Linked DNA regions of Homo sapiens. The protein of the gene in region 1 purifies or fractionates together with the protein of each later gene. This does not show direct contact. Each region holds a gene or a part of one and is shown on either strand. Other genes may lie near its edges. The genes, in order: SLC35D2, RAB39A, MARCHF5 and XPOT.

The links.
Region 2: the proteins of SLC35D2 (region 1) and RAB39A purify together in Homo sapiens (affinity purification with mass spectrometry; one large-scale study listed by BioGRID and IntAct). This does not show direct contact.
Region 3: the proteins of SLC35D2 (region 1) and MARCHF5 purify together in Homo sapiens (affinity purification with mass spectrometry; one large-scale study listed by BioGRID and IntAct). This does not show direct contact.
Region 4: the proteins of SLC35D2 (region 1) and XPOT purify together in Homo sapiens (affinity purification with mass spectrometry; one large-scale study listed by BioGRID and IntAct). This does not show direct contact.

The regions. Positions count from the first base shown.
Region 1 is NC_000009.12:96,341,600-96,347,190, reverse strand, and holds part of SLC35D2 (nucleotide sugar transporter SLC35D2), read left to right. Parts: intron 1-1,789; coding exon 1,790-1,892; intron 1,893-3,194; coding exon 3,195-3,287; intron 3,288-5,591. UniProt on the Homo sapiens protein: Nucleotide sugar antiporter transporting UDP-N-acetylglucosamine (UDP-GlcNAc) and UDP-glucose (UDP-Glc) from the cytosol into the lumen of the Golgi in exchange of UMP.
Region 2 is NC_000011.10:107,960,936-107,965,294, forward strand, and holds the end of RAB39A (ras-related protein Rab-39A), read left to right. Parts: intron 1-1,010; coding exon 1,011-1,437; 3' UTR 1,438-2,547; downstream 2,548-4,359. UniProt on the Homo sapiens protein: The small GTPases Rab are key regulators of intracellular membrane trafficking, from the formation of transport vesicles to their fusion with membranes.
Region 3 is NC_000010.11:92,344,894-92,350,484, forward strand, and holds part of MARCHF5 (E3 ubiquitin-protein ligase MARCHF5), read left to right. Parts: intron 1-4,455; coding exon 4,456-4,639; intron 4,640-4,777; coding exon 4,778-4,944; intron 4,945-5,591. UniProt on the Homo sapiens protein: Mitochondrial E3 ubiquitin-protein ligase that plays a crucial role in the control of mitochondrial morphology by acting as a positive regulator of mitochondrial fission and as an important regulator of immune response.
Region 4 is NC_000012.12:64,417,149-64,422,739, forward strand, and holds part of XPOT (exportin-T), read left to right. Parts: intron 1-897; coding exon 898-967; intron 968-1,727; coding exon 1,728-1,946; intron 1,947-2,921; coding exon 2,922-3,106; intron 3,107-3,204; coding exon 3,205-3,373; intron 3,374-4,086; coding exon 4,087-4,323; intron 4,324-5,591. UniProt on the Homo sapiens protein: Mediates the nuclear export of aminoacylated tRNAs. In the nucleus binds to tRNA and to the GTPase Ran in its active GTP-bound form. Docking of this trimeric complex to the nuclear pore complex (NPC) is mediated through binding to nucleoporins.

The DNA.
Region 1 (5,591 bases):
CTGAATCACATGTGGGTAGGTAAGAAATTTGGAAGACCCTTATTTTGAAGAAAATCCTTTTGAGACAGAGTTTCGCTCTTGTTGCTCAGGCTGGAGGCACGATCTTGGCTCACCACAACCTCTGCCTCCCTGGTTCAAGTGATTCTCCTGCCTCAGCCTCCCAAGTAGCTGGGATTACAGGCATGTGCCACCACGCCCAGCTAATTTTGTATTTTTAGTAGAGATGGGATTTCTCCATGTTGGTCAGGCTGGTTTCGAACTCCCGACCTCAGGTGATCCACCCACCTTGGCCTCCCAAAGTGCTGGGATTACAGGCAGGAGCCACCACGCCTGGCCAAAAATCCTTTTTTTTTTTTTTTTAAATTGTGACTGAGGGAGAATTCTGACTTATGATGACTAAAATTAATTTCCCTTCTCACAAATATATTTGTAGATAATAATGTGTGGAGGCGTCAAGCAAAAATCCAATTTAATTTGCATTCAGATTTTGGTAGAATTTTTGCTCTGTGTTTCATTCTCTTTGGTTAGAAATAATCTTATTTTGACATTGAAGAAGATTCAGGGTATGCCACTGCAAACTGTGCCACTGTGAGATCAGGATTATTTTGAGCCGAGAAAGATTGAGAATCAACAGATCAGGAAGTTTGCTGCCTTCTCCTTTCTGCCTAAAAACCAGGGAATCAATTTCCCATTGTGAAGAGGACCGCTTCTCCCATCCCAGGAAGAGGAGAGCAATTCCTATCACTGGACGGAGGGTCGGCCCTGAGATGCATCTGCATAAACAAACCCTAAAAGAACCCTTCTCGTTCATCATTTCCACCATAGGTTTCCTAGTTACTTTCTAACAATTACACAATTTATTTGTTCCTTGAAGCCCAAATCCTCTTTCCTTTTTAAAACGTAAGTCCCCAAGTCTAACTGTTTCTTTGAGTTTCACTTCTTTTCTGTGAACTTCAGGGAACATATTAATAAGATTCGTATTCTCTTTCTCCTGTTAATCTGTCTTTTATCAGTTAAATTAGCAGGCCCCCAGACACTGAATCTAAGAGGGTACAGGAAAAGGTTTTCCTCCCTGGCAATGTGTATTTCTGAATTATGACATGGCCTAGCACTGTCTGCAACGATCAAGTGCAGGTGGGTGGGCCACATCATGGCTCAGCTATTGCTCTTCCTCTTGTTCCTGTCATAGATCCCCAAACGTATTTATGCTGGTGCTATTTATAATGGAAATGGAAGAGAAGCTGTTTCAAAAGAATGGGAAGAAAGGAGCCATAGAGGGGTCACATAGAAGGATGGATACCTGCCTTGCCATTTTGATGGACGGGGTGCGGTTTGGGCACCAGATGGAGGTGTGGCTGCCTCATGCGACCCCTCTTACCCAGCCTCTGCCCAGCTGCCCCTCACTGGCTGCACCCTGGAGGTGGCCCTGTTCACTACAATAAGCAGAGCCCCTGGGTGGATCGGGGCGAATCACTCCCCTTAGGAAAGTCAGGGCTCACCAGTTATTATGTGGATTCATCAGCTAGCGAAAGAAAGGGGTTGCAGTTGAAGGAAGATGCTTAATGTCGCTCTGGTTTTAAGCCATTCACGATTGAGTCGAAGCCATCTGATGGGCTGGTTTGGTTTTTGTCTGGAGGCAAAGCAGAGGAATTAATCATTCACTACCACAAAGCGGGGAAAGTGTGCCACAGAAAAGTGGGTTTGATTAGGGAAAGGTAGATCAGGCGGGCTTGGAGGCCAAGTTGTGAGTTTTTGAGTAATCATTCTCCCTTTGTGGTCTCCCTCCCAGGTCTGACCTTGCTTTTAACTTAGAAGGCTATATTTTTGTATTCCTGAATGATATCTTCACAGCAGCAAATGGAGTTTATACCAAACAGAAAATGGACCCAAAGGTACCAGACCTTGCCTATGGCTTTTTGGCTCTGTCATCTGGCCCCTAGAATTATATGAAAAATGAAAATGAATGTGTACAGTTGGAATGTAATTTAATTTATATAATATGACCTGTAAATTCCTTATTTTCAATTATCTTGTCTGTATAAGTTATTATTTGCGAAATTTTGGGTGAAAATGAGATATGATGGGAAAAGCCACTAGTTTAGATGCACACTCAGAACATATAAAAAGGGATTATTCTGAAAGGCAAATTAATTTTTTTACCAGCATCATCAATCACCAAGGCAAGGTCAGGGGTCACGATATTTGTTCAGAGAGCGCTAGTTTGGAGTCTGGAGATGTGGGCTACAGACACAAGTTTTTCTACTTACTGACTGTTGTGACTTTGAACCTTAACTTCTCCAAACTTCAGTTTCCTTATCTGTGGAATGAAATGACTGCAATGGATAATTTGTAAGGTCTTGTCCAGCAATAGCTGCTGCTTCTGATGATGAGGGGTGGGGCAGAGGAGCTTTGCTTTTGTGTGGCTGCCTGTCACGTGGAGGCCCCATCCCTCCCCCTCCCCCATCCCTCCCCCACCCCCAGCTGTTACAAGGAAGCCCGGAGGATGAGTCAGGCATATGTTTCTTTGTTCCAAGCTCTTTGTGCTGGATGAGGGAGTTCACTCTGACCAACAGGCTTATTTCCATGAGCTATTTTTTTTAATCTGCTCTTTTTTTTTTTTTTTTATCTGCTCTGTTTTTTTTTTTTTTCCCCTGCATGGCCTTTTTTTTTTTTTTTTTTTTAACGGTAGAAGTTTTGCAAAAACAGGTTTGTTGTCTTTTGAGGATCACAATATGTCATCCTTTTTTGAAAATGGTGAAGTGGTGTGGCCACTTTAATGAAAGTAAATATATGATGCTGCTGTCCTTTAATGGAAAGAGCAGATGTTTTTAAAGAGTTTTGTTTATATTAACATTTTTAATGTTCTTTATTTTGTTCCAGATTTCCCATTTTGAATTACATGCTTTAAAAAAAACCCCACATAATTAGAATGCTGGAGATGAATGGAACCCTAGAGGCTTCCCACTGCCATGCGTTTTCTCTGTAGTTTTGGTGTAAAACAAATGTTTATTCCAAAATCTCAGTACCCTCAAACCAAAGCATTTTATGTCAGAAATTTGCTGAAAATATTCCAAAAGAGTTGCTCAGAATGCACATTCTAACTTCGCATGAATATGCAGTTGTATAAATGGCTCCAGGAAATCTGTGCCTCACGTTTCTGAAACTGAGTGGTTTTTACATTTTTGTTTTTGCAGGAGCTAGGGAAATACGGAGTACTTTTCTACAATGCCTGCTTCATGATTATCCCAACTCTTATTATTAGTGTCTCCACTGGAGACCTGCAACAGGTGAGCTGATGACAATCATTACAGTTTTCCTTAGCTGGCTTTAAAAAATTTAATATTTAACATTTGATATGCACTGAAACAAAAAGTGTAAAGTTAGCTAGGACTACCAGGAGGGTACATGATAACAAGATGTTTGATATCCCTAGTAACACCTTTTGGCACTACCCTTGCATTGGCATTTATCCTTAGCCACATATCAAGGAGAGCCAAGAACTCTGGACTTGGTACTTTTTGGAAAACAACAATACAAATCTGAGTTTGAATTCCATATCCCCCTTTGCTAATGTGGGGACCCTGGGAGAGCTACTTACCCTAGAAGGGGATTTTGATCATTTTAAAACATAGGTTTGTTTATTTATTTGTTACTTTCTATTACGGACATTTTGAAACATGCACAAAATAGAGTAATTCAATGAGTTGTCAGGGACCCACCACCTAGCTTCAACACTTTGGCATTTTGCCATCTTATTTTATCTGTCCTCATCCATCCCCAGCTTTTTGTTCCTCTGGAGTATTTTAAAACCTATCCCAGCCATCACGCCATTTTACCTCTAAATATTCCAGGATCCACATTTGAATTTTGGGAAGGTGTTGTTCTTTCAGCATTTGCCCTGAAACCGTATCTGCTGCTGGTGAGAGACAAATAAAATGGTAAATTAGTGGTAAGATCTGAGGCCCAGTGGAGCGGTGGAGGCCAAGTCTCTCAGGACGTGTGGACATTCTCCATAGTGACAGCTCCAGTGGCCACCCCGAAGGGTGCAAGCCCGGACTTCTTCAGGAAGTCGCGGGCCACACAGCCTCTGAGAACTTTGCTGATGTGTAAGTGACTGTGAGAAACGAGATGCGATGGGCAAAACCCTCCTCAGCGGGACCTCCACCCACAGACTCGACTCCGGACACAGCCCTGACCAGCCAGGCGATAACCCCGTCATTGCTGGCCTGGGGCTGGGGCAGCACCCATTTACCCATGGACAGGACAGTGTTTCCATATTTAGCAATCAGCATGGGTGTATGTTGCCCACCAGTTGAAAGTCAATCCCATTTGCAGCTCTTTTAGGGTCTGAGTGACTCTGAAAGGCTGCAGGCTGCTGTGGACTCCTGGGCAGCTCCTTGTTCTTTCTCCAGCTGGACTTTCTCACTTGTCCAATTCTCTTCCCAGAAGGAGGGATCAGCAGAAGGGCTTAGCAACCTCGTCCCCGGGCACAAACAGCCATTTCCACGGGTTTATATGGAAAACTACCAAGTGGCACCAATCTCGATAAAGAGCTCTCTTTTTCGGGTTATTTAGAACGTTGTGAACCTGAGCCTCCCTGTTAATTCCGTTTTGGAAGATAAAGCGGGCACCTGCACCTCTCTAGTAAGAATGAGCAGGGCATGATACCTGAAAACACAGTATTTGTTTTTCAGCTACCATCAATCAATTTTAAACTGAGTCAGTGCTCCAACATTACACAAAACAAAATTATGAACTCTTGGCCAGGCGAGGTGGCTCACACCAGTAACCCCAGCACTTTGGGAGGCCGAGGCAGGCAGATCACCTGAGGTCAGGAGTTTGAGACCAGCCTGGCCAACGTGATGAAACCCCATTTGTAGAGAGTATTTTTAGTAGTAGTAAAAATACAAAAATAAGCCAGGCATGGTGGCGGGTGCCTGTAATCCCAGCTTCTCAGGAGGCTGAGGCAGGAGAATCACTTGAACCTGGGAGGCAGAGGTTGCAGTGAGCCGAGATCACGCTATTGCACTCCAGCCTGGGTGACAGAGCGAGACTCCATCTCAAAAAAAAAGGAAAAAAGATAAAAAGAAAAATTATGAACTCTTAATGAAGTGGTCCTAGAGGCTTGTCTCCTTTCATTATTATAGAAACGAGGGTTTTTTTTTGTTTTTGTTTTGTTTTGTTTTTTTAAATCAGCGGAGTTTATCTGTTCTGAAATTCTGGTATTTTAGATATATATATATTTTTTTTTTCCAAAAATATAAATCTAGAAACTCCTAAATATTGTTAAAACATCTCACTGGGGCTAAAAGCATATTTCCCCATGGCAACAACACTATGAAAGGCATAGTGACCAGAAACTGAATTTTAGGTTCTTTATGAGTAAAATAGATTAGGTGTATTATGTTAATAATGTATAACATTGTTTCAGAAGAAATATGTGTTCTTACATCAACGTCATTGACTTATAAACTTGTAGCATGGTGTTTTCAGAAGTTGCCCTCTGCCTGTAATGATTATCATGTGGAATCTTCTGCTTTCTCATGTGATAATAATAATAGCTAATACTTGCTGAGGGCTTATTATGTCAG
Region 2 (4,359 bases), on another chromosome or scaffold:
AGTTTGGGAAAGCTTTTTGTGAAGGACAGCTTCCTCAGGCCTAGAGAAGGATGGAGACTAGATCTGGAGAGACATACAGAGAATCGTTAGCACACCTCAGATTCATATCCCAGGTCCATACAGTCTCCTGTTTCTTGAATAGGTGCAACACAAGACTGTACCTGTAACTAATACTGTGACAAGTCTGCTGTCTTCGTGAGTTTGGGCTGTTATAACAAATTACCACAGAATGGGGATTTAAACAACAGAAATTTAGTTCTCACAATTTTGGAAGCTGGAAGTGGATGATCAGGGAGATCCTGGTGCCAGCATGGTCAGGTTCCAGTGAGGGCCCTCTTCTGGGTTGCAGACAGCCACCTTGTATCCTCACATGGTAGAAAGAGGACTAGAGTGCTCTCTGGGGTATCTTTTTTTAAGGGCACTGGTCCCATTCACGAGGGTTCCACCCTCATGACCTAAATTACATCCCAAAGGCCCCTCCTCCTAATCCTAATACCACCACATTAGGGTTAGCATTTCAACATAAGAATTTGGGAGGGACACAGACATTCGATCCATACTACAGCCCTTGTTTCTTTTTCCTAAACTGATAGAGAGAAGAGTTCATTAAATTTTATGACAAGTGAGATTCTTAAGATCTAGTTTGTTGTACAACCTGTGCCCTTTACTCAGTCTTTCAATATGCTTATTTTTAACCACAATGATGTAATAATCTATCAGATTTTTGAAAGCAAAAACAAATAATCAGACAGTATGAGATGACATAGCATGTAAGTGCTTATTTGTCTAACTAAAAATAACTACTACTTTCGTGTTCTGTCAGTGTATGAAACTTGCGTATTAGTCCCATAGAATATTTTTGTTCACTTGAGATACCTCATATTTTATTTATAAATTCTAGTTAAATCATATTAAGATATCTTCAAATGTTATTATGGTGCTAGATTGTTGGAAGGAGAAGAAAAAGAACAAGTTGTCCTTATACAACCTTTTTTCTCTTCATTTTTCAGATCAATAACCCGATCTTATTACCGCAACTCAGTTGGTGGATTTTTAGTATTTGACATTACTAACCGACGATCTTTTGAACATGTGAAAGATTGGCTAGAAGAAGCAAAAATGTATGTACAGCCATTTCGGATTGTATTTCTGCTAGTGGGACATAAATGTGATTTAGCTTCACAACGTCAAGTTACAAGGGAAGAAGCTGAAAAACTGTCAGCAGACTGTGGAATGAAGTATATAGAAACCTCAGCAAAGGATGCTACAAATGTTGAAGAATCCTTCACAATCTTGACGAGAGACATATATGAACTTATTAAAAAGGGAGAAATTTGTATTCAGGATGGCTGGGAAGGGGTTAAAAGTGGTTTTGTTCCAAATACTGTGCATTCTTCTGAGGAAGCAGTAAAGCCCAGGAAAGAATGCTTCTGCTGACTTCAAACATGCTGAAGAACTAACAGGAACAGATTGGGTGTCAGTTCAGGATAAATACCAACATTAACAGCAGAATGATGCAATGAAAGAATTTAAAAAGGTTACAAACCCACACCAATACTATTTTATAAGGTATTTGATTCAGAGCATGATGCTTACTTGTTACACTACTAGATTGGGTATTTTGCTAAATTACCAAGCAAAGCAGACAATCTTTTTCTTGAAATTACCTCCATTCTTACTTTGTTAGCATACGCTGACCTTAGTGTCCAGATATGTCACTATTACTCATTTTTCTTGACAGTTCAAATGGATTTTTGTGCATATATAGTCAATTGAAAAGATTTTATCAGGAATTACATTCTCTTGAGTTAATTAATATTGAATAGCAAAATGCATTTAAATATGCACTGTTCACCTGCAGAGTAAACAATCTCAGAAGTATCGACTAGGACGTAAATAGCAGTTCCTTATATAAAGTACCAGGTTTTTTCCCCATTCTCTGGAAATGTTTGTCCTCCCTTAATTTTGCCTCAACACAAGAAAATAAGTTTTATGTCCATTTTTGTTCCCTAATTTATTGCTTCTAAAAATGCATTATGTTTTACAAAGATATCTAAGGATCCAAGCAAACTACTTTAAGCAAATATTTGTAAAATTAAAAACGGAGGACCGCTCACCAAATGTTTGAAATGTTGCTTTTTTTTTTTGAGACAGGGTCTTGTTTTGTCACCCAGGCTGGAGTGCAGTGGGGCAATCTTGGCTCCCTGCAACCTCTGCTTCCTGGGTTCAGGTGATTGTCAGTACCTTACCTCAGCCTCCTGAGTAGCTGGAACTGCAGATGTGCGCCACCATGCCCGGCTAATTTTTGTATTATAAGTAGACACAGGGTTTCATAATGTTCCCCAGGCTGGTCTCCAACTCCTCGCCTCAAGCAATTCGCCCCCCTCGGCCTCCAAAGTGCTGGAATTATAGGCATGAGCTGCCGTGCCTGGACTATCAGCAGCACATGTTTTGCTGTTACGGTGTACTGTTCGTATTTAGACAAGAAGAACAAAATTTATTTATGTATTGACATTTTCAAAGAAAGTAAATGCAATTTACTTTGAACTATTGTCAAAATTATTAATATAGGTAAACATGGAATGTTTTTAATAATAGCATTTTTGTCCAAGTAAATTTCCAAATTTCCTAATTTCCAATATGAAAAGAATGCAGAAAAGATTTTTCTGGGGAAGAAAAATTGGTTAGATGCTTGATATATTTAGCCTTCAAATTGCATTTTACAATCTCATCAGTACAAGTTAAGATAGAATAATCAATTAAGACAGTAAAATGACTTTTGAGTTTCCTAATTTTTAACTTATTGATTAAACTCTCCTGGAAGGGATATTTTGATCATAGTGTCAAATATTTTATAATGTACATTTCTATTCTGTTCTGTAAACTACTCTTAATCACAAAAGAGTACCAAGTGAAGTTTTTTGGAATCATAAGGTTTTTACTCTTAACCTTTAGTTGCTTCATTTGTTTGAAAACCAAAGTGGCATAGTAGAAAGAATATTTAATAAGAAATCAGAAAACTTGGTTACCAATATCTAACCATGAGTAAGTCACTTGACCTCTCTAAGCACCATTTTTCTTATCTGTAAAATTAGGCTAATAACCCCATTTATTAGTGTGTTTCATGGAAAATTATTTTGAGAATCTAGTGAATGATGCAACAAACACTTTGTAAATAGAGTAAGCATTTTGAGATTGATATGCTGCTCATGGGCATACTATTATATTTACAATGGGTGAGAATTTTGTTTTCTCATGATTTTTCCTTTCGTTCCTATGCAGAGGGAGTAGAAAAAGATGTGTGTCTTCATGGACCCGTAGGAATTCTTGATTGATGCATATCCTCTGCTTATTTTTTTTGGCGGGGGTGGGGGGCGAGGGGGCCGAGGTCTTGTTCTGTTGACCAGGGTGGAGCGCAGTGGCATGATCACAGCTCACTGCATCCTGGACCTCCCAGTCTCAAGCGAGCCTCCCACTTTAGCCTTCTGCTAGCTGGGACCACAGGTGCACGCCACCACGCCTGGCTAATTTTTTATTTTCTATAGAGAAGGGGTCTCCCTATGTTGCCCAGGGTATAGGTCTCATACGCCAGGGCACAAGTCTCATATGCCAGGGCACAAGCAATCCTTCTGCCTCGGAGTCCCAAAGTCCTGGAATTACAGGCATGAGCCCCTGCGCCCGCTTCCTCTGCTTTTTTTACCCTGAGCTATTGTTCCTGCAAAGTGGAAATAATAGAGAGGGACGTTCCTGCAGACTTAACCCAATCAAAAGTCACGTTTGTGCTTTTTGTGCATCTTTGAAGTAAATATTTAATTGTATTTTCAAATACTTGTACATTTTCTGGGTTCATGTATTTTTAATTGTGCTTATGGAGAGATTATAAATTATAACTATATAAGGTATGACTATTTATATTGTCAGCATTTTCTTGATATCATTAGGTTAATTTCACATGAGTTCAAACCGTAATTAACCAAATGAGAAAATACTTGTCCCCCAAAATGTGAAGTAGTCCATTTTACTGTTACAGTTTTCAATATTATATGACAATTTCCCATCAGTCCAAAATGGCATAAACCCCAACACTGAAAATTTAGCAGTTGAAAGTACAGTCACCTGTGCCTACTTCTAAAGTTAAATAGCTAAAACATAAAATATGATTTAAATTTCAGTGGACACCCTTTATAATACTAATGTCAGGAGAGACTAATATTTGGGCTGAAGGATATCATGTGTTCCAAAATTTAAACCAGAGCTAAAGAACTAGAAGAAACAAATAGGAAGGCAGGGCCCAAAATTCAAGGCATGAACAGAAGGAAGCCTAGAACTCGTCTCCTAGCACCTTGTTCACCACACTGT
Region 3 (5,591 bases), on another chromosome or scaffold:
AACAATTTTATGACATAGATTATTGTTATAAATTATTCCTAGTTTACTGGTTTAGAGAGTTTACAGGTCCAGTGCCACACAGCAGAGAAGCATTAGGACTCCTGTCCCTTGGCTCCTTAAGTGAAGCCTGGTCCCAGAGGCAGCTGGAACATTTTATCCTGGAACAGTGGAACCTTAATATGTTTAGCCTAGTTCCCATTTTTGCCTCTAGTGCAAAGACAGCCCCCATTAGCATTGCCCATTCTTAATTACAGTACTTACTTATCCTTGATTCTGAGTTAAAAAAAAAAAAACCCTGTTATTTCATCACTGTTTCATCCTCTTGTTAGGATTCTGGCCAGGTGCTGTAGCTCATGCCTGTAATCCCAGCACGTTGGGAAGCTGAGGCAGGCAGAACCCTTGAGGCCAGGAGTTGGAGACCAGCCTGGTCAACATGATGAAACCCCATCTCTACCAAAAATACAAAGAAAAAATTAGGCATAGTGGCTGTATTCCCAGCTACTCCGGATGCTGAGGCGTGAGAATCGCTTGAACCTGGGAGGCAGAGGTTGTAGTGAGCCAAGATTGCACTCCAGCCTGGGCGACAGAGCAAGACTCTGTCTCTAATTAATTAATGTAGAATTCTAATAATAATTTAAAAGCTCAGACCTTAATTAAAACTGTTAGCCTTTCAGCAGCAATGAACTGCAGGCCTACCTAGATATGAAAATCTAGCTTTTAGCCCTTCTGCAGGAAAAACAAAAAATTATTTTTCTCTAAACCTGCAATTCTATAGGTCTTTTGTTTTTCTCTTTTTTTTTTTTCTTTTTTTTTTTTTTGAGACAGAGTCTCATTCTGTTACCCAGGCTGGAATGCAGTGGCGCAGTCACGGCTCACTGCATCCTCGAACTCCCTGGGCTCAGGTGATCCTCCCACCTCAGCCTCCTGCACAGCTGGGACTACATACACATGCCACCACGCCCTGCTAATTTTTGTATTTTTTGTAGAGACAGGGTTTCACCATGTTGCCCAGTCTCAAACTCCTAGACTCAAGTTACCCACCTACCTCAGCCTCCCAAAGTGCTTGGATTACAGGCGTGAGCCACTGTGCCCAGCCAGGCCTTTATTTTATACATAGATAACAAATTCTTAGACATTCTATATAATTCCTGGAGCTTACCCCAAAATCGAAGTCTTAAAAATAATGTTTTTAAATCTTGGGACAAGAAAGCAGAATGTATGTGATTACACACAGGTTCACTGACTTTGTATTGGCCAAAATTAAATCAGGCCTATTGCTTAATCACCTTTCATTTATTGCCCCTGAGTATGACTGTTTTAGCAAGTGGTGTACTGCAGGTGTTATACTACCTTATTTCTTCACAGTGTATATATTTGCACACTTGTTTGGTTTGATTTTCTCTCACTTTCAAAAGACATCTGTTTAACCTGCCATTTTAGCCCCAGCACAAAATCATTATTCAGTGAATGAATGAATGCATGTGTGAATGATGAGCCTCATCCCACTTCTAACTTGCTTGAGCATGGGGCATCTCTCTTCACTTTAGTTGTAACAAGTGAAATACTGGGCCTTTGCTCATTCTTTGCCCTATTTCCTTCTTTTTTTTTTTTTTTTTTTTTTTGAGATGGAGTTTCACTCTTGTTGCTCAGGCTGGTGCAATCTCGGCTCACTGCAACCTCCACCTCTTGGGTTCAAGCGATTCTCCTGCTTCAGCCTCCCGAGTAGTTGGGATTACAGATGACCACCACCACGCCTGGCTTGTATTTTTAATAGAAACGGGGTTCCACCATGTTGGTCAGGCTGGTCTCAAACTCCTGACCTCAGGTGATCCGCCTGCCTCAGCCTCCCAAAGTGCTAGGATTACAATTGTGAGTCACAGTGCCCAACCCCTACTTCCTTTTTGTTTCCTTATTCTTAAACACCTTATAAGGTTTTTACTGCTACCCATGAGAAACAAACTTCCTCTTGTTCGCTCTAGTCTATACCTGAATATTCACTCTTCTTTATATTTCTAAACCCAAAAAAAGGACACATAACCCGACAAAGGATTTTTTCAAATATTCTGAATTTATTTGCTAACACTTTGAGAATATTTAATCATATTTAGTTATAATGTTAGAGTGATCATTATATTGAAATTTTTAATGATATAAAAATAGAATTTCTTAGCCAGACGTGGTGGCACTCATCTGTAGTTCCAGCTACTCAGGAGGGTGAGGTGGGAAGATTGCTTGAGCCCAGGAGTACAAAGCCAACCTGGGAAACGTAGCAAGACCCTGTCTTTTTTTTTCTTTAAAGGAATTTCCTGGCCGGGCGTGGTGGGTCACGCCTATAATCCCAGCACTTTGGGGGGCCAAGGCAGGCGGATCACCTGAGGTCAGGAATTCGAGACCAACCTGGCTAACGTGGTGAAACCCCATTTCTACTAAAAATACAAAAAAGTAGCCAGGTGTTGTGCCATGTGCCTGTAATCCCATCTACTCAGGAGGTTGAGGCAGAAGAATAGCTTGAACTCAGGAGGTGGAGGTTGCAGTGAGCCAAGATCATGCCAAGACTGAAACTCCGTCTCAGATAGATAGATAGATAGATAGATAGATAGATAGATAGATAGATAGATAGATAGATAGATGATAGATATATAGATAGATAGATAGATAGATAGATAAAGAAATTTCCTGGGAAATCATTATAGGTAAAACAGTCATGGCCAGCTAACTTTTGCTACCATTATGGAATTGGGGTTTATGAAATATCATAAACCAGACCATTTCACTTTAGGGCAACTCAAAAGGATCACCTTCCACATGCAAGATAGGAAGTTGTTAAGTTCTACCTGGAGACACAGAAGAATATCAAATTCGATGACATTATTGACCATTAGGAAGAGGCTAGCCTCCTGCCCTTTAATATTACATCTTAATTAGATAAATTAACCAAGTGGAAATCTGGACTATATCCATAGCTCAAATTTGGTCCTCTCCACACACTTTCATAAAACATTTCTGGGGCCGGGCGCAGTGGCTCACGCCTGTAATCCCAGCACTGTCGGAGGCCGAGGCGGGTGGATCACCTGAGGTCAGGAGTTCGAGATCAGCCTGACCAATGTGGAGAAACCCCGTCTCTACTAAAAATACAAAAATTAGCTGGGCGTGGAGGTGCACACCTGTAATCCCAGCTACTCGAAAGGCTGAGGCAGGAGAATTGCTTGAACCTGGGAGGCAGAGGTTGCAGTGAGCCAAGATCGTGCCATTGCACTCCAGCCTGGGCAACAAGAGCAAAAAATTCCGTCTCAAAAAAAAAAAAAAAATTTTTGGCCAGGCACGGTGGCTCGCGCCTGTAATCCCAGCACTTTGAGAGGCCGAGGCAGGCTGATCACCTGAGGTCAGGAGTTCGAGACCAACCTGGCCAACATGATGAAACCTCGTCTCTACTAAAAATACACAAATTAGCTGGGCATGGTGGCATGCCCCTGTAATCCCAGCTACTCGGGAGGCTAAGGCAGAAGAATCGCTTGAATCCAGGAGCCGGAGGTTGCAGTGAGCCAAGATCACACCACTGCACTCCAGCCTGGGCAACACAGCGAGACTCCATCTCAAAAACAACAACAAAAAGAGGTAAATTTAAGGCCAAGATTGATGTGGAAGTGAAAAGGATTTTGGAGAGAGGGAAAAGGTAGAAGTTCACAAATGCCAATTTTGTATTTCTCGCCTTCTGGGATCTACACCAATTTAGAAATAGCCCCAAGACTAGGATAGGGTAAGGAAAAGATTGTATTAGCTTCATTACCCCCATAGATAGGGTACCCTAGAGTTCCTGAATTGGGAAAAATGCCTGGGATCTGTAACCAAAACTGGACCTCCTACTACAGTCCCTCAATTCTAGACCTTGGAAGTGCACTTAAGGAGGGTTAGGTCTGTAGGGTAGACACTTAGCCAGCCAGAGACATCACACCCTATCTTACACACCACTAAGTAAGGAGAAAGAGCCAAAGAGAAATGAGCTTTCAGGCCATCTCTTGAAGGCCGGTCCTACCTCTTGGCTGGCTATGCTTAATCTCCTAGAAGGAAGATCAGGAAAACAGTTGTTTTGCTGGAAGACAAATAGGACTTAGAATTATATCCCAGTTCCGTAGCCCAGTCTAACCAAATCAAATAAAGGAATAGAAGCAACAATCAGAGGTCCCCGCCCCTCTATTGTAATGTAATCAGTCTGGGTCAGCCATTTTAATTTTTATTCCTGTGTGGTATGAAATGGCTTGGGAACTTTGTTTTTCCCTTGAATGAGACATTTCTTATAAATAAATCAGGACTGATAGCTTTCCAGCTTATTTTTTAAACTTTTTATTTCTGTGTATTCTTTTGAAATTAAGCATTTTCTATTAAAAAAATAGAGCTTAACATGCAACACCTCATTTGAAAAAGAAGTAATTCTAATATATGCTATCTGTTTCACAGGTTGTAGGTCATAAAGAAGGTCTGGATGTTATGGAGAGAGCTGATCCTTTATTCCTTTTAATTGGACTTCCTACTATTCCTGTCATGCTGATATTAGGCAAGATGATTCGCTGGGAGGACTATGTGCTTAGACTGTGGCGCAAATACTCGAATAAACTACAAATTTTAAATAGTATATTTCCAGGTAAGGCACTGAACTGTGGTTGTAAAGTGCATACCAAATTGATCTTGAAGAACAATAACATGCTTTTTTAGCCATGTTTGAAGGTAGTCTAACTCTTCTGATTTATTAGCACTAACGCACTGCATTTTTTTCCTCTAGGGATAGGTTGTCCTGTTCCTCGAATTCCAGCTGAGGCCAATCCTTTAGCAGATCATGTCTCTGCTACTCGAATCTTGTGTGGAGCCCTTGTCTTTCCTACTATTGCTACAATAGTTGGTAAATTGATGTTCAGTAGTGTTAACTCTAATTTACAAAGGACAATCTTGGTAAGACGGCTTTAACATTACTTATATTACCTTGCAAAAGAGAATGAAGTGTATTTGTTTTTAAAAGGTGGGGAACTGTATAAATATTCGGTCTGTGGCTCCTATGCATTAAGCCTCTATTTGAGCCTCACTATCATTCAATAGCTTGAGTGGAAATAAAAAGAGGAGAAACCACTGCAGCAGTTCTGGCCTTTTGGAACTATGTTGTAGGTGCTTTCTCTCCTGGCATATGCATGAATCATCACACCTGTCCCTCTTGCCAGTGGGATTACAGTACTTTACGATCAGACCACCTGGTTCAAATCCCATCACAGAAATTGTCTTGCTGTGAAATCTAAATCAAATGTCTGGACTTTTTGTTCCTGTAGTATGGTGATGGTAATAATCAGGATTATTGTGAGGATTGTATAAGTACTAGCACATAGTAAGCACTCATGTTGTTTGCTATTATTGTTACTCCCACTTCTCCCCTCTGGTGGCATGTAACCTGCACGGACCTTGGAGGACTGAACAAAGGGGGCAAACGTGGGAATAAAAGACAAAGACAAGAGAGTATATTTGGAAGAAGGGGTCAGGGGGCACCTTGCCTCTAGTGGACAAGGGCCCTGAGCTTTACACAGCCCTCTGTATTTATTAGGCAAAAGAGA
Region 4 (5,591 bases), on another chromosome or scaffold:
GGAGGTTGCAGTGAGCCGGGATCACACCACTGCACTCCAGACTGGGTGACAGCGAGACTCCGTCTCAAAAATAAAAAAAGTGCTGAGTTTGTTGGTTACACATAAAAATCCAAGGCTGGGCGCAGTGGCTCATGCCTATGATCTCAGCACTTTGGGAGTCCAAGGCAAGAGGATCGTTTGAGCTCAGGAGTTTGAGACCAGCCTAGGCAACATAGTGAGACCTCATCTCTACAAAAATTTTTTTAAAAAATTAGCCAGGCATGATTGCGCGCTTCTGTATTCCCAGCTACTGGGGAAGCTGAGGCCAGGAGGTTGAGGCTCCAGTGAGCCATGATGGTGCCACTGCACTTCAGCCTGGGCAATACAGCAAGACCTTGTCTCAAAAAAAAAAAAAAAAATGAAAATCCAGATATTTCACAGAAAAATCTAGATTTCCAGCTTTTCTGGAAAAGTCAGAATATCTGGTAACACCAGGCCTGTTTTTCTACATGACAATTCTCTCTTAGAGTTAAGTAGCTGCATGGGCACTTGTGTTCAGAATCTCTGACTTACTAATTAAGCAAAATAACAAATCACTACTGAGAGGATTCCTAGTTCACCTATTGGTTTATTCTGTAGATCACAGACCACAAAACATTTTCATTCGAAAAATTGTGTAGCCATCATTTGTTTCAACATGAACAGAATCACAAATTAAAGATTGATATTGATGCCCTACCTGCCACTCTTGTCCTTATCTTTAAAGCAATGATGAGTGGCATTATCAGTTTATGTTAGGGAACTTCAGATAATTGAGAGCTATACAAATTTTCCCTTTCAAATATATGAGGCTGTTATTTTTTACAACCATAGACACCAAATATAGCCATTATTCTTTTTCTTCTCTATTTTGAACAGATACTCAGAACTAACCACTGTTCAACAACAGCTAATTAGGGAGACGCTCATATCATGGCTGCAAGCTCAGGTAAAATCATAATTTCATTCAGTACCTCAAATTATTAGATATTTAAACTTATTTTTTGCAAGAGTTTGGAACTTTACCTCAAAGATTTTCATCAGTGTTCCTCCATTTGATTTCATAGCTTTTTTAAAAGGTGCTGGTTTTAAAGATCATGGAAGTGGTAGTTTAGCAATAATTTAATATTATATCAATGACTGAAATGGTCATAGTTTCCATGACACATTGTGGAAACTTTGGTTTTAAAATGTAGTTGTTTTTAACTACTTGACAAATGCTGCTTTCTGTTTGGCTCTTAAAGGTGAGCCCTCCTGGACAGCCTCTCCACCAGAGCCCTTTATAAAGGGCCAGTTGAGTTCTTTTCAGTTAATTTTAGCTAATCTTAACACATAAAGCAGTTGTGTAGCTAGAGTTTTCATTTTCCTTAAAGAGCAAGTAGAGGAAAATTTTTTTTTCTTCTTAGAAGAAATTATAGGAACTATTAAAACTCTGCACATGAAACTTTTCTGTCAAAGTGTAAGAATGAGGAATAATCATTACAGCCTTTAATGGTTCATTTAATTGTTCTTCATCTGGTCAATCACTTAAATACTTTTGATAATTTTGATAATCATAATTATCAAAATAATTTTGAAGAGTATTTGTTGCATAGTTTATCTGGGCCATGTTGACATTTGATGAAACTTTGCCTTTTAATAAGACAACTGGTGTTTCTGGGTCTTTTCAATTTACATTTAATTTTATGGACTGTTTCTCTGTTTGTCAGATGCTGAATCCCCAACCAGAGAAGACCTTTATACGAAATAAAGCCGCCCAAGTCTTCGCCTTGCTTTTTGTTACAGAGTATCTCACTAAGTGGCCCAAGTTTTTTTTTGACATTCTCTCAGTAGTGGACCTAAATCCAAGGGGAGTAGATCTCTACCTGCGAATCCTCATGGCTATTGATTCAGAGTTGGTGGATCGTGATGTGGTGCATACATCAGAGGCAAGTAACTAACCATGAATTTTTTATATTTAATGTAAGTTTTGTAGGTGATAATGGGCACATAATAAAAAGAGCAGGGAAGTTTTCTTTCTTGAGGTAAACTTTCTTAAGTTATATAATTATAAATTTACCTGATGTTTTGGATTTTATTTTATGAAGGAACTCAAACTTGGTTATTTTTTTTCCAGAGGTATATTGAAATTAAAGTATTACATTACATTTTTTATTTTTTTACTTTTTTGAGACGGAGTCTTGCTCTGTTCCCCAGGCTGGAGTGCAGTGGCACAGTCTTGGCTCACTGCAACCTCCGCCTCCTGGGTTCAAGCGATTCTCCCACCTCAGCCTCCCTAGTAGCTGGGATTATAGGCACATGCCACCACGCCTGGCTAATTTTTGTATTTTTTGTAGAGATTGGGTTTCGCCAGGCTGTGCTCAAACTCCTGACTTCAGGTGATCCGCCCGCCTTGCCCTCCCAAAGTGTGGGGATTACAGGCATGAGCCACTGCGCCCAGCCTAAATTTTTTTTAACTAGGCAAATACTGTAGTGACATACACGAGTTGATTTTCTTTTATGAATCTGTTGAGAAAGGTAGTCTCAATTTAATACTGCTATATAGTCCCTGAGCAAGGAAGAAGCATTGCTTAGGAGTTGTCCGTGTTGCTACTTCTGTATTCTTCATCACATAGTGTAAGTACTATGTTACTATATTGAGAAATAACTTAAAATATGCTTAAGATTTCTAAGCAGTGCTTTTTATAGTTTGTATTTACTAAGAAATTAACTCTGACACTGAGGAGTAGAACAGAAAGAGGAAATACAAAGAATCACAGGATATGATCTTAGAGCTGGTAAATAGGAAATACTGGTAGGGAATGTGTTAACAAGTCTGAAAGTTTACTCTCTGCAAGTATATTCAGATATCAAACATGATTTTGTAAGGTAATCTACTTTGCATTTGGCGTTTTGTATTTTAGGAGGCTCGTAGGAATACTCTCATAAAAGATACCATGAGGGAACAGTGCATTCCAAATCTGGTGGAATCATGGTACCAAATATTACAAAATTATCAGTTTACTAATTCTGAAGTGACGTGTCAGTGCCTTGAAGTAGTTGGGGCTTATGTCTCTTGGATAGACTTATCCCTTATAGCCAATGATAGGTAAGTATGCCTATTATTTTTATAGTATAAACTTGTAAAATACAGTATCTAAAACTCATGACTTTGAAAATGTTACAATTTTATTGTCCCATTACCAGGTTTATAAATATGCTGCTAGGTCATATGTCAATAGAAGTTCTACGGGAAGAAGCATGTGACTGTTTATTTGAAGTTGTAAATAAAGGAATGGACCCTGTTGATAAAATGAAACTAGTGGAATCTTTGTGTCAAGTATTACAGTCTGCTGGGTTTTTCAGCATTGACCAGGTTGGTAAATTTATATAAAACATTGTATGTAAAGTTGTTAGAACAAACTGGGATAGGTACTAAGTTAAATATAATAATAGCTTTTTTTCTTCTAAATGTTATAAACTCCCCTTGAGATTATAATATAAACCACTGCATCTAGCCAAAATGTTCTCAGTAGCATTCTCCTTGGAGAATGGGTTATACCAGTTCTTAAACCTGAAAGCCTGTAATTGCACATTTCTCACAAACTCTTAGGAGATGCTGACACAACTTGTTCATAGTGGAATTGAGATTTTTTGTTTTGTTTTGTTTTTTGAGATGGAGTCTCACTCTGTTGCCCAGGCTGGAGTGCAGTGGCACAGTCTCGGCTCACTGCAACCTCCGTCTCCCGGGTTCAAGTGATTCTCCTGTCTCAGCCTTCCGAGTAGCTGAGATTACAGGCGCATGCCACTACACCCGGCAAATTTTTTACCTTTTTGGTAGAGACGGGGTTTCACCATGTTGGCCAGGCTTGTCTCGAACTCTTGACCTCAGGTAATCCACCCACTTCGGCCTTCCAGAGTGCTGGGATTACAGGCATAAGCCACCGTGCCCAGCCTGGAATTGTTAAATATATGACGTCATTTTAAAATTGAATCCTGTAATTAGCACTTGATTCATATTAAAGTTCAGTTTTTCCTCTTAGCTTGGGCAGGCAGTTTTAAACAGAGATGTGTCTTGATTGCTTATAGGAAGAAGATGTTGACTTCCTGGCCAGATTTTCTAAGTTGGTAAATGGAATGGGACAGTCATTGATAGTTAGTTGGAGTAAATTAATTAAGAATGGGGATATTAAGAATGCTCAAGAGGCACTACAAGCTATTGAAACAAAAGTGGCACTGATGTTGCAGCTACTAATTCATGAGGATGATGATATTTCTTCTAATATTATTGGATTTTGTTACGATTATCTTCATATTTTGAAACAGGTAAGTTTTTGTTTTATTCTTTTTGCTCAATACATAATACAAAGGAGCCATGGAGAAGTGGAAAATATGGAAAAATTAAAAATGAGAAAATACCCATAATTCTACTACCTAAAGATATTTACTGTTAAATACTAATGTATTTCCATCTTAAAAAAAAAAGAATTGGCCAGAAAATAGTTTCAGGTTCTAAATTCAGTAGACTAACCAGCTTCAGAGGTAGTTATAGGTTTAGGTTTTTTTTTTTATTTTGAACCTGTCTTTATTTGTGAATACAGTTGAAATTTTCATAAGCATGGTTTGTTATTTTAATTTACATATACATCATTCATTTCTCATAAACAATTTTTTTTTCTTTTTTGAGACGGAGTTTTGCTGTTGTTGCCCAGGCTGGAGTGCAATGGCGTGATGTCAGCTCACCACAACCTCCACCTCCCAGGTTCAAGCGATTTTCCTGCCTCAACCTCCCAAGTACCTGGGATTACAGGCATGCACCACCACATCCAGCTGATTTTGTACTTTTAGTAGACAGGGTTTCTCCATGTTGGTCAGGCTGGTCTTGAACTCCCTACCTCAGGTGATCTGCCCACCACAGCCTCCCAAAGTGCTGGGATTACAGGTGTGAGCCACCACGCCCGGCAACAATTTTTTACAATTAAAGTTTCCCCCACTTCCAGAAAGAACTTGTAGGTGGTGTTAGTCTCCATATTATAGCATTTAGCAATTAAAATAATTAGTAACTTATCAATATGATATTAGATGAAAGCCATTTCTGTATATTTACTTTGAATTAATTGAGTCAAGTCAAACTTAAAATATGTTCCCAAATGACTTTAGTTTCTGTTTTATTGTAGTAAACATAACATGTATCTTTATGTATACTTCAAGAAATTTTATGCAGTGTGGAAAGGTATGATCACTATTGGTAATTCCATTGTATATCTCTTAATGGTTTTGTAGGCTTGTTTTGCTTTGTTTAAAAACCTTTGCAGAATATGTTATAGGTGTCTTTGTCTACATGTCAAGTTACTTACTAGAAGTGGCATTACTTGATCTTAGGTTAGGTATATTTTAAATATAGGCAGCTGCTGCTAAACTGCCCTCCAAAAAAGTTGTGTGCATGTTTTCAAAGATCTTGATTGATTACAGGCCAGGCATAATGGCTGTCACCTGTAATCCCAGCACTTGGTAAGGCTGAGGCGGGAGGATTGTTTGAGGCCAGGAGTTTGAGACCAGCCTGGGCAACATAGGAAGACTCCATTTCTATAAAT